Homo sapiens: one gene and its partners. The protein of the gene in region 3 purifies or fractionates together with the protein of the main gene of each other region. This does not show direct contact. Each region holds a gene or a part of one and is shown on either strand. Other genes may lie near its edges. The genes, in order: TBX20, ACADM and INKA2.

Region 1 (3,722 bases), on a different chromosome or scaffold from region 3:
AAGGAGCAACTTGTGTTGAAATGTGCATATTAGTATCTTCAGCTATTTTCATTACCCATATTTTCAAAGTCAGTTTTTGATGACACTGTCAGTGGTCACTTCCTTGGCCTTGCAATCTATCATGATGCCACCAAAAAGGAGGAATTAAAACCCAGAAGATCAAAAACCTCGTACTGGTTCTGTCACTTACCAGATTTGTGACCTTGGGTGAATGTCTTAACCATTCTGACCTCAGTTTCTAATTCTACAAAATGGGACTCGTGGGGCCTTCTTCAAGGCATACAGTGTCAGAATTAAATGAGGTGTTTAGAAAAAAATGTGGAAAGATTTTTCTAAATTAAAAGTAATAAATCCAAACCATGAATTTTAGCTGGATCCTAGTTCAGAGGGGGTTTAGGGGCAGTTGGTCTATCCTGAAAATTTTAATATAAACTGAATACTAGGTGATATAAAGAACAAATTCTTATAAATTTTCTTAGCTGTGATAAAGATGTTGGGATTACAAAAATAGTGTTCTCATTGTCAGAATATGCTTAAAGAGTGTTTAGAAGTGTCAGGAGGCATGCAACTTAGTTTCAAAAGGGGAGGGAAGAAACTGGGAAGGAAGAGGGGAAGTACGTTTGCATATAGAGAGAGGAAGAGGGAGGAAAGAGAAAATTTGGGGGAAAGCAAATTTGGCATTGCTGAATCTGGGTGGAAGGCATGTGAGGTTCATTTTACTATTTGTTTCGTTTTTTGTATATCTGAAATTTGTTCTAAATAAAAAATCAAGTAGAAAAACAAGAATTAAATTAGAAAATGTCATTAAAGATGTGGTTCCAGTTGGATACAGCGAGTACTAGCAGATATTCTGACCTCCTGTTAAGGATGATCATCATCGTGTTACACTTGCTGATGTGTGGTGTGAGCAGCACATTTGTTTAAAAAAAAAATGAGCATAAAGAGCTGATGCTCTCTAAAATCAATGTCTCAGAGTCTATCAGGGCCAAGAGCTGAGAGAGGGTGAAGTTCTGCTTCTTTGGGAACAGCAGGCACTCACAGCTTAGGGGTTAAGGGCACTCCCTCTTGAATCTTAACCACCTGAATTCAAATCTGCAATGGGAGGAGCAAGGTCACTTCAGATGACTTATTTAACTAGTGCCTCAATTACCCCAACTGTACGATGCTGAATAAAAATACGATTGTTCCTATCTCATGATATCATTGAGAAGATCAAGTATGATTATGAATTCAAGTGGTGTCTTGCACATAGTAAGTACCCAAATGTTAGTTGTTATTTGTATTATGTAAATAAGACCCTCCTATGATATGAGAGGTCCCGCCAACACTTACGCAGTCTTGGTCTCTCACCTATTAAACCAAATCTCAGGCATTATACTTTAAAGTTTACTAGAAACTTTAATTTTTGTTCATCTCTATAATTTTCACTAAAAAAAATAAAGAGGAAAACAATTTACCTCCTCCTGCTTTGGCCCTCTTTAAAAAGAATTATGATAAAAGCAATGAGGTTTCCACATGAGAAGTGTCTATGCCATTCCCAAACATCAATAAGGTTTCTTAAGTGAGCATAAATTTAAATTGTTATAATATATTAGCATGGTGTACATTATAAAAGCTATGAAATCAATTAGTATAAATGAATGGAATGTTTTCGGAATCTTTTTGGAGCCTATGATATTTGCATTCCACGTGCCCTCAAATAAATTAAAAACAGGATTGCTGGTTTCAGTGTTCCAGATTCGCAGAGAAACAGCATTAGTGCTTTAGGCCTTTGTAGGCTTCCATCTAAACCCCAACTTTTAGTTTGGGCATTCTCTGAATGTTTCCACTCCTGTGTTATGATCTTGGAGATAATTCAAAGGTTACAGTACTTGCCTTTACTGTAAGATGATCGGCATGATAACAATTACGCATTAATTTCTCTATCTCATTAATACACCACTAAAATTTTAAAATACAAATGGTGACAAATTCTTTTTTTGACATTTCTGAGACAGCCCCATCATAACCACATGTCTTATTTACAGAGCACCTTACAGCTTCCAAAGGCTTAAACAAGCCTACACACACAACTACATTTGATCTTCACAGCAATCCCCTAAAATGGTCTGGTCAGTTCTTGGCCCTAATATCTAGGTAAGGAAAACAGCAGCCACTGGTGAAATGAAATCTACTCAAAGTTGTATAGAAATCCTAGGAGAGTAAGCCTTACATACATCCACTCTGGCCATCTGCCCACATCCCTTTTCCAGGCTTCTACTACCTCATTTGTGTGAGGCTGGCTGTGATGTCAGCTTCATCTTGCCTTTCCCGAGGGTCTCCACACCACCTCGCTTTCAGGTGACCATCCTCCCCGGGACTCTGAGCCATCTACCAGGCAGCATCTAATAGCTACTCACTCAGAACCCAAAACCTAACAACATCAAGACAAGAGGAGAGCAATAGTCTTGGCTACCTATGACCAATGAAACAAACACAAGATACAAAGACACAGAGAGGTCATAAACAACTGAATGTGTCAAGTAAACTGAGCATGTGACTTCCTTTTATATTGAAGTGTATGAAAAGGAATTCTATTTCTGGTCCGTTCTGATGGAGAGAAGTTACTCACCCTCTCTTAGCTTCAGCTTCCTCACCTGTGGAGTGTAGTACTGCCACAGCCCCTTAAGCTTACGCTGGGCACAAAAGAAGAAAATGTATGGGAAGTGTCTATCAGTACATGGCCCTTAGTATGGCCTTGATAAATATTTACTAAGTTGGAATAAGCCCTATGGATGAAGAAATGCATTAATTTAAGTTTTTTTTTTTAATTTTATTATTTTTTTGAGGTGGGGTCTCGCTTTGTCACCCAGGCTGGAGTGCAGTGGTGAGATCTCTGCTCACTGCAACCCCCGCCTCCCAGGTTCAAGCGATTCTCCTGCCTCAGCCTCCCGAGTAGCTGGGACTACAGGCACCTGCCACCAGGCCCAGCTAATTTTTGTATTTTTAGTAGAGACGGTTTCACCATGTTGGCCAGGCTGGTCTCGAACTCCTGACCTCAGGTGATCCACCCACCCTGGCCTCCCGAAGTGCTGGGATTACAGGCATGTGCCACCGCACCTGGCCAAAAATGCATTAATTTTAAATGTGATGTACAACAGAGAGTAAAAAGCATAGGTTGAGTATCCCTTATCTGAAATGCTTGGAACCAAAAGTATTTTGGATCTCGGATTTTCTCAGATTTGGGAATTTTGCATTATGCTTACAGGTTAAGCATCCTTAATCCACAAATCTAAAATCTGAAATGCTCCAGTGAGCATTTCCTTTGAGTGTCATGTCAATGTTCAAAAACGTTTCAGATTTTGGAGCATTCAGATTTTGGGTTTTTGGATTAGGGATACTCACCCTGCATATAACTCAATAATATAAATTAGATATCTTGATGTTACATACTATGGTTTACTATCTAAAAAGACATTTAAAATCATTTTACCAGAATTATCTCACCCTAAATTATAGCTGAATAAACCTTACAAAATATCTAAAGTATCAGCAGTTTGGGCAGTTGGATAGAATAGGTGTGTTTAATTGAGCAGAGAAACTGAACTTTTAAATTTTATGAAGCAACAAGAACATGGTTATACATGTTACCAGGAGGAGGAAAAGGAGGCAAGTAACTTTCTGGAGAAGAAAATGTGAGAAGGCAGATTGGGGTAGGTGTGGGTGGGGAAGTGGGCAGTTAA
Region 2 (3,722 bases), about 36 Mb from region 3:
GAGAGCAAATGCACAGAGGAATGTTTAAGACTACAGTAATCATTTGTATGGGGATGTGAGAAACAATACATAAAAGCTGAATTCTGGTGCTGAATTGAAGAGCATAAGATCAAATCTCTTTTTTTTTTTTTTTTTTTTTTTTTTTGAGACGGAGTCTCGCTCTGTCGCCCAGACTGGAGTGCAGTGGCGCAATCTAGGCTCACTGCAAGCTCCGCCTCCCGGGTTCACGCCATTCTCCTGTCTCAGCCTCCTGAGCAGCTGGGACTACAGGTGCCTGCCACCGCGCCCGGCTAATTTTTTTTTTTGTATTTTTAGTAGAGACGGGGTTTCACCAGGATCTCGATCTTCTGACCTCGTGATCCGCCCACCTCGGCCTCCCAAAGTGCTGGGATTACAGGCCCGAGCCACTGCGCCCAGCCAAATCTCTCTTTTTATTGATAAACTAATGCAGAGTAAGGAAATTCTAGTATCAGTCTCACAATGAATTAGCAGAAGTATACTTAAGAATTTCAGTCCAGTGTTCTCTCTATCACAGCTTTACTTCTAAGATTGGTGCCAGTTGATAGCAATCTTGCAGGTAGATAGAGGGTAGAGAAAGTCTGGGCACGGTAGCTCATGCCTATAATTCTAGAATTTTGGGAGGCTGAGGCAGGTGAACCATTTGAGGCCAGGAGTTTGGGGCCAGCCTGAGCAATATAGCAAGATCCTGTCTCAACAAAACATTTAAAAATTTAAAAAATCAGCTAGGTGTGGTTGACATGGACCTATTGTCCTAACTGCTCAGGAAGCTGAGGCGAGAGAATCCATGGAGCCCCAGAGGTCAAGGTTGCATCCAGCTTGGGTGACAGAGTGAAACCCTGTCTCTTAAAAAAAAAAAAAAGGAAAAATGACAAGTATGTATTATGTATTATTTATTGAGAAACTACTTTGATCCAGTCACTAAGTGCTAGGGGCTTTAAATACAGCATATAATTTAATCTTCATAGAAATTCTGTGTTATAGATATTATTTCCACTTTACAGATAAAGAACCAGATGCAACTGGTTCAAGGAATAGACCCGTATTGAACTTCACAATCTCCCTCCCAAACAATTATATCTAACTCATCCTCTGTCACTCAGTGAACCACCATAGATTTCTCCTGCAAGTCTCTTACTACTGAGAGAGAAATTTAAAGTGACAAGCAATCATACCAAATTAATGCTAATTATCTCAGTATGATCCACTACCCTGGCTGGGCATGCTGGCTAATGCCCATAATCCCACTTTGGGAGGACAAGACGGGTGGATCACTTGAGGCCAGGAGTTCGAGACCAGCGTTGCCAACATGGCGAAACCTCATATCTACTAATAATATAAAAATTAGCCAGGTATGGTGGCCCACACCTGTAATCTCAGCTACTTGGGTGGCTGAGGCAGGAGAATCGCTTGAACCCAGGAGGCAGAGGTTGCAATGAGCCCAGATGGAGCTACTGCAATCCAGCCTGAGCAACAGAGCAAGACTCAGTCTCAAAAAAAAAAAAAAAAAAAAAAAAAAATCCACCATCCCAAATGGCTATCCTCACAGTGCTTGAAAACTTTCATTTAGTCTTTGGCTACAGAAAGAGAAAAGAAAAAAAATTTTCATTTAGGTTGGGCACAGTGGTTCATGCCTGTAATCCCAGCACTTTGGGAGGCAGAGGTGGGTGGATCACTTGTCTTCAGCTGTTCGAGACCAGCCTGGCCAACGTGGCAAAACCCCATCCCTACTAAAAATATAGAAATTAGCCAGGCATGATGACCCACACCTGTAGTCCCAGCTACTCAGGAGGCTGGGGCAGGAGAATCGCTTGATCCTGGGAGGTAGAGGTTGCAGTGAGCCACTTGCACACCAGCCTGGGTGACAGAGTGAGACTCTGTCTCAAAAAAAAGAAAAGAGAAAATTTTCATCCAGTCTTTGGCTAGAAGTCACAGGAAAAAAAAAAAAAACACAGAAACTTTTCATTTGGTCTGGGTGCAGTAGCTCATGCCTATAATCCCAGCACTTTGGGAGGCTGAAATAAGAGGACTGCTTGAGCCTAGGAGTTCAAGATCGGCCTGGGCAACATAATGAGACAATGAAACCTCATCTTAAAAAAAAAAAAAAAAAGAAAAAAGAAAGAAAGAAAAAGAAAAGAAAAATTTCATTAAATTCTGGTAAGAAAAAAAAAAACCTTTATAAAGAAAAGGGAAAAATCTTTAAAAAACACAACAAATAATAAAAAAAATAACTCTGGAGAGCTTTGAGATTGTCATTTGTACCTAGCTGTGAGTTATCGCAGCTGCCTTTAACTATTTTCTGAGACCAAATAAATTGAGTAAATGGTTTTTAACTAGAGAAAAAATAAAAATTTTGAAGAAGCACTTTAGAAGGCCAAGAATGCCAAAGATAGATATTATTTCAAATTTTTTGTGTGTAGTTTTCATTTTATAGAGGGCAGAGGAAAAAAAATCATGGCTCCCTGGTCCCAGGAGTGAGAACTTCATCTAATAGTACCAAAATTGCAATTTGGATATATTATAGCAAAAACAAGCTTTAGCTTATTACCAGGCACCTAGAATTGTAATCTAACAAGTGTTTTTAAAATGTATTTGTGGCATTCAGATATGTAAGTTGAAGACTATTCATATATATCAGTAAATCTCATTTATTTTGGGCTAAACACTCAGAAAAAAAGGAAGGAATTTAAGTGTATGTATGCTGCTAAAACAGATCTAATGTACAGTGTAGTATACTGAGGAAGAAAATGAGATCAGGAAGAATGGAGTGTGAGTTATTGTAAATTATCTGTGGACAGTGGACTGGTTCTACTCATTGAAAGACATTATTAAGTTTATTTACAAACATATTCCAAACAAAACATATAAAGCTTCATATGTATAAGTTTAAAGTCAAAAGATAGAACCGAACATATACCAAAACTAAATCCTAATCCTGGTTCACGTTGTCGATTGGCTTTTGTATGCTGTGATCTCCAATGAAAACGAGAAATACTTCTCAGGACCTGTAAAGAACACTTTTATTAAAATAAATTTGATAAGTTAAACATTAATCAGATAAGAGACTACTGATAATCATAAGTGAGTACAGCAACTGGTTTGACCATACTCATAGTTTTTAAAGTCATCACTATTTAAATGCCTTCAATCATAATTTAAATAAGCCAATTATCAGTTATATAAATTCCTATTACAGAGGAGATGTTTTTAAAAAGTAATGAAAATAAAGTCAGTGGTATTTATACTACTGAAGTGGAGGGTTTAGGACAAACAACAGTCAAGGGTAGTAGTAGATGTAGGACCACTATTCTGGGTATCTTACAAGCTCCTAGGACATTAATGGTTGGAGAGTTGGGGTGGGGAGAACGATAGGCTGGAAGTGAACATACTGTGTTCAAGAGTTGCCTAGTCCATCAACTTTGATACCCTGTCACTGTGAGCCTCCCATGCATGCCTCTGGAAACCTTCCCCTCAGAGGATCTCATTTTTTAGGATACCCCACTCTAACAAAACAAATTAGCATAAAACCATGTTCTGTATTTTCTGCTGTCTACAGGGATTCTTACAATGTTCTGAGCAAGGAGTCACCAAACCAGTGCAGCCACATCATGCTGTCTATTGCCGCTTTCACAGCAGATCTAAGTAGTTACCACAGAGACCATCTGGTTCACAAAGCCAAAAACATGTACTATCCGTTCCTTTAC
Region 3 (4,243 bases):
CTTGACCAGTATTACAGGAGGCCATGCCTGTGTAAACACAAACTAAGGGCAGCGCCAGGCAACACAATGTCTTCCTGGGTGGCAAGGGAGATCCTGCCTGGGATGGGCCATCTGCAGTGCAAAAGCTCCCTAGCTCATGACAGAAACCAACTGTATTCCTTTCCCACCCCATTGCAGACCTAGGGTATTAAGTCAACACACTTCTATCCCAGCCACAAGCAAGCTGCACTGAATTCAGTCCCTACTGTCCCTGGGCAAGGCAGCCAAAGGGCTAACCCTGGACTAACTCAGCTCTACTTTCCCCTTTGCTACTGTTGGGGATACTAAGGCACTGAGATTTGGCCCAGCTACCTAAGCACTGAACTGAGGTGTCAGGGAGTGAGTGACACTCTACTAGCTCTGTCTGTCCTTCTGCTCTGTCTCGTCTCTGAGCAGGCTGGCATTGGGGAGGGGGTGGAGCACCATGGGGGGTAGTGCAGAGCTCTCCCATCTGAGTGTCATTCTGGGATCCAGGCCAGGCATTCGGCTTCCTCTCCAAGAGAGTCAAAGGCTGAAGCTGCTCAGACAAAGGGCCAAATGAAAGCTAATGGGGCACTCCGTGACTTCAGCTTCTCCCTTTCCTCCTCTCAGGCATTGGGGGCTCAAGTCCTTGGCAGGAGAGGGTGCAAATCAAGATGTGAAGCTCAGCTCAGTGCAGATTCCTATTTGCCTTTTTTATTCTCCTGGCACTCGTAGTCTCTGTCTTCCTCCCCTCACCACCTCCCACCTAGACTGCTATAAAAAATGCAAATCAGTAGGATTTAAAAATTCGAGCCCATGCCAGGAACACCCACAAACCCTCCATTAAGGCAGAACCTGAGGTGGGTGGTGTAGTCCCCAATTCGAAGCACAAAAAGGAGGATTCCATTAGATTCTTTTCTCTGCATGGGTCTTGGACCTCAGACATTATCTGTGATGACCTTGAGCTTTCTTTCTGGTACTGCACACATAAATGGAAAAAAATGAGAATTGTGTACGTGTGGGCTGGGGCCAGCCATCCCAATCTGGCATGAGAAGCATGTGCAAACGACTATGGGAAGGGACATGGCGTAAGTTCAGAAGAAAAGCAATGAATACTCCTGTCTCTCAAGAAATTTATCTCTGAGTCAGTGACTTTTGCATCTGAGTGTCACCACAGAAAGGGCTCCAGGAGGGAGGACTAGAGAGAGAAATGATCGTTGATGTGAGCAGGCTGACCCTGGAGTAGGACTGACAGGAAGAGTGGCAGGGTTACTTGGTCAGGAAGCATCAGTGAGAACACCTGCAGTTTCAAACTCTGCCCCCTACCCCCAGAGCTGGCCCCTAACACACTGCCAAGTTCCTTCCCAAGCAGGAAGAGTGTAGCCTTTGCAGGCAGCAGTGGGAAACGCTGTCACAGAATCTGGAGAGCCATAAGCTGGCCCTTTCTAGATCCAGGCCTGCTGTTGTGTGGCCTGAGTGCCCCTGGCTCTGTAAAGTAAGAAGAAAGAGGAGAGCAGAAAAGTGAGACTGAGAAGAGTCGACTCCAAGAGAGACAAACTAAAAGAGACAAAAAGAGACGAGGGCAAAGACACAACAGAGAGCCTAGTGGAAGGAGAGATGGGCAAAGCAGAGATGGGGCTGTATGTGCATAACATTTGCCTGAATTCCGGTGGGTGAAGGAATAAGAAAGGTGGCAGGTGGCGTGGGGGCGGGGGCAGTGGTATATGAAGCCAGTGAGAATCAACCTGGCTCTCCCTAACATAGCTTTAGCGAACACCACTCCCCCGACTTCGGTGATTTCCACCCCCCCAGACTGAGCTACTTCTCCCCCTCCCCGTACCGCGGGGCCTCCGAACGCTCCCTGCGCACTCCCCAAGCCCAGACCTGACATCTGGCTGGGCCTCCGCAGCTCCCGCTCTCGATTTGCCAGGCAGAGCCCCTCCTCCAGCGCAGGGCCCTCCCCCGCCTTTCCAGCTGCCAGCCCCCTCCCTGCTGGCAGACAAGCCCAGGCAGACAGCCGGCCAAGCCTGCCCCCGCAGCCGCGCCAGCTCTGCCAAGCCCGGCAGAGCTGGGGGCCCAGGGTGGTACCCGCTTCCCTCGAGCGAGCAGTCCCGCTGACCTCGTGCCCGCGCAGGGATCAGGACCCAGCACCCTCCTCCTCCCCGCGCTCCAGGTCGCCCCGCGCAGCCCCGCACCCAGGCGCCCGCGTCCCGCTCCCCAGGCCTTCGCTCTCGCGCTTTCCGCGTCGGCGGCGCGGGGGCCCCACTGCGTCCGTGTGCCTGGCCGTCTCTGGGCGTGCCCTATCTTCTCTCTGGGGTTCTCTGTGTCACATTTCAGCCTGGCTGGCTTGCTCCCTCTGTCTCTCTGTCACTTGTTCTTGTCTCATCACAAATCTTTGCTCAAAGTTTCTTCGTGGTCCCCTTTCCTGAGGACAAGCCCTGCCCTCTGCCTGCGGGCCCGCGTCCTCTCCTCTCTTCCCTGGCCCTCCTCCGCCCTGCTTACGTCCCGGCTCCCCGGGGGCCGGGGCGGAGACCAGGTGCCCGTCGGGGCGGAGCAGCCCTCCCTGCCCCGGCGCCAGCTTCGCTCTTACCAGCTCCTGTTTGAGGCGACGGAGATAGCAGTCCATTTCCCTGCTCTCCATCGTCATGCGCCCATTTGTCGGGTTCGGTTCAAACAGAGAGGGCCCGGGTGAAACCCCGGCCCCACTGGAAACTGCGCTCCGGGCCGGCTCCCCGCCCCTGCGCCCGTAGCGCTCGCAGCGCGGAGCTGAGCCTGCGCTCCGAGCCCGGGACTCAGAGTCGCTTCCCCAGCGGCTAGCCGCGCGCGGTCGGTGCTGGGGGTGGAGGGAAAAGTGGGACAGCCAATGAGAATTCAGGGGGGCTGTCTTCAGCCAATGGGCAGGGCGGCCGGGAGGCCGGGCTGGGCGGCCGAGGCGGACCCTACCGCAGTGTTTGCACAGGACCCGGGCGCAGCCACTGGGGCTGGCGAGGACACACCTGGTCCCGGCCAGCGCGGCGGAGGGCATCGTGACTCCAGGCTGTACCGCGGCCCCCAACGAAGCACGTGACCCTCGTGTGGTCATAAAGGGAGAGCACAGTTTTACGGGGAGGGACTGGGTAGCGGTCTCAGTAACAGGCAGAGTGCCATAGTGTCAGTCCCTTTTCCCAAACTCCGATCAGGAAGGGAAACACCCCCACCCACTCCGCTCCCATCCCCAGAAGTCCCTCAGAAGCTCTTTTCTCCCCGAAGAGGACCCTGGGAAGGTGGCTCCCGCCTCACTCCTAGAGTGAAATCCTCGCAGCCCTGCCCTCGCGGGCGGAGCAGAGACGCCGCCGCTTGGCCGGTTCACGCCTGTCACACAAAGCCGCCGAGGGTCGGCTGCGCCCCTGGCAAGGCTGTAGGGCTGGGGATACTGAGTATGACAGGCGAGGTCCCTGCTCTCAAGAACTTACATGGGAGAGAAGGGGAGACAAGATAAACAGGTAAACACACACACACACACGGTAAGCACGGTAATTTCAGACAATGATTTTTATGAAAACATGAAACGGGGTAAGGGGGTCGGGCTGCTTTCCCTGGGGCCTTCAGTGGGGTGGGCAGGGAACAAGCCTTTCTCTCCCCAGAGCTCGGCGTCAGTCAACCTAGCTGACGCTCTCGCCTTTGGCGAAGCGCTCTAAGGCCGGGACGCTCCTTTGTTATTCAAAAGGAGCCGGGCGAGCGCCAGCCAGGCCCTGGAGGATGGAGTTGCGGCCAATAGGCTCGATAGGCCGATGGGCTCCGCAGACCGGTGGGGGGTGCTCCTCCCAGCCCAGCCCTGGACGCCGGGCTCCGCGCCCGCCAGCGCTGCTCCCTCCCAGCGCGGAGACGCCGCGCCCGGCCGGGACAGCCGGGGACGGTGGCGGAGAGCACGGAGAGTAATTAAGCAATTAGCGACGTGTTGTTAAAAGGTAATTAACGGGGAAAAGTTTGCCCCAGGCAGGATTAGAGGTCTCTGAGTGGGACAACTGTAAGAACACCAGAGAAGGCACGAACGGTGCCGGCGCCGCCATCGGTCCGTCCGTGGCAGCCAAAAGTGCCAGATATGCTAACTATTGAAAGATGCGCGGGTGGCGCACGCCTGTAATCCCAGCACTTTGAGAGGCCGAGACGGGTGGATCACTTGAGTTCAGGAGTTCGAGACCAGCCTGACCAACATGGAGAAACCCCGTCTCCACTAAAAATACAAAATTAGCTGGGCGTGGTG

The links.
Region 1: the proteins of INKA2 (region 3) and TBX20 purify together in Homo sapiens (affinity purification with mass spectrometry; one large-scale study listed by BioGRID and IntAct). This does not show direct contact.
Region 2: the proteins of INKA2 (region 3) and ACADM purify together in Homo sapiens (affinity purification with mass spectrometry, with the first as the bait; one large-scale study listed by BioGRID). This does not show direct contact.

Annotation. Positions count from the first base shown.
Region 1 is NC_000007.14:35,236,945-35,240,666, forward strand, and holds part of TBX20 (T-box transcription factor TBX20), read right to left. Parts: intron 1-3,722. UniProt on the Homo sapiens protein: Acts as a transcriptional activator and repressor required for cardiac development and may have key roles in the maintenance of functional and structural phenotypes in adult heart.
Region 2 is NC_000001.11:75,727,702-75,731,423, reverse strand, and holds part of ACADM (medium-chain specific acyl-CoA dehydrogenase, mitochondrial isoform a precursor), read right to left. Parts: intron 3,036-3,722; coding exon of another isoform or gene 3,024-3,035; coding exon 2,936-3,023; intron 1-2,935. UniProt on the Homo sapiens protein: Medium-chain specific acyl-CoA dehydrogenase is one of the acyl-CoA dehydrogenases that catalyze the first step of mitochondrial fatty acid beta-oxidation, an aerobic process breaking down fatty acids into acetyl-CoA and allowing the production of energy from fats.
Region 3 is NC_000001.11:111,736,596-111,740,838, forward strand, and holds the start of INKA2 (PAK4-inhibitor INKA2), read right to left. Parts: upstream 2,801-4,243; 5' UTR 2,648-2,800; coding exon 2,591-2,647; intron 980-2,590; exon of another isoform or gene 856-979; intron 1-855. UniProt on the Homo sapiens protein: Inhibitor of the serine/threonine-protein kinase PAK4. Acts by binding PAK4 in a substrate-like manner, inhibiting the protein kinase activity.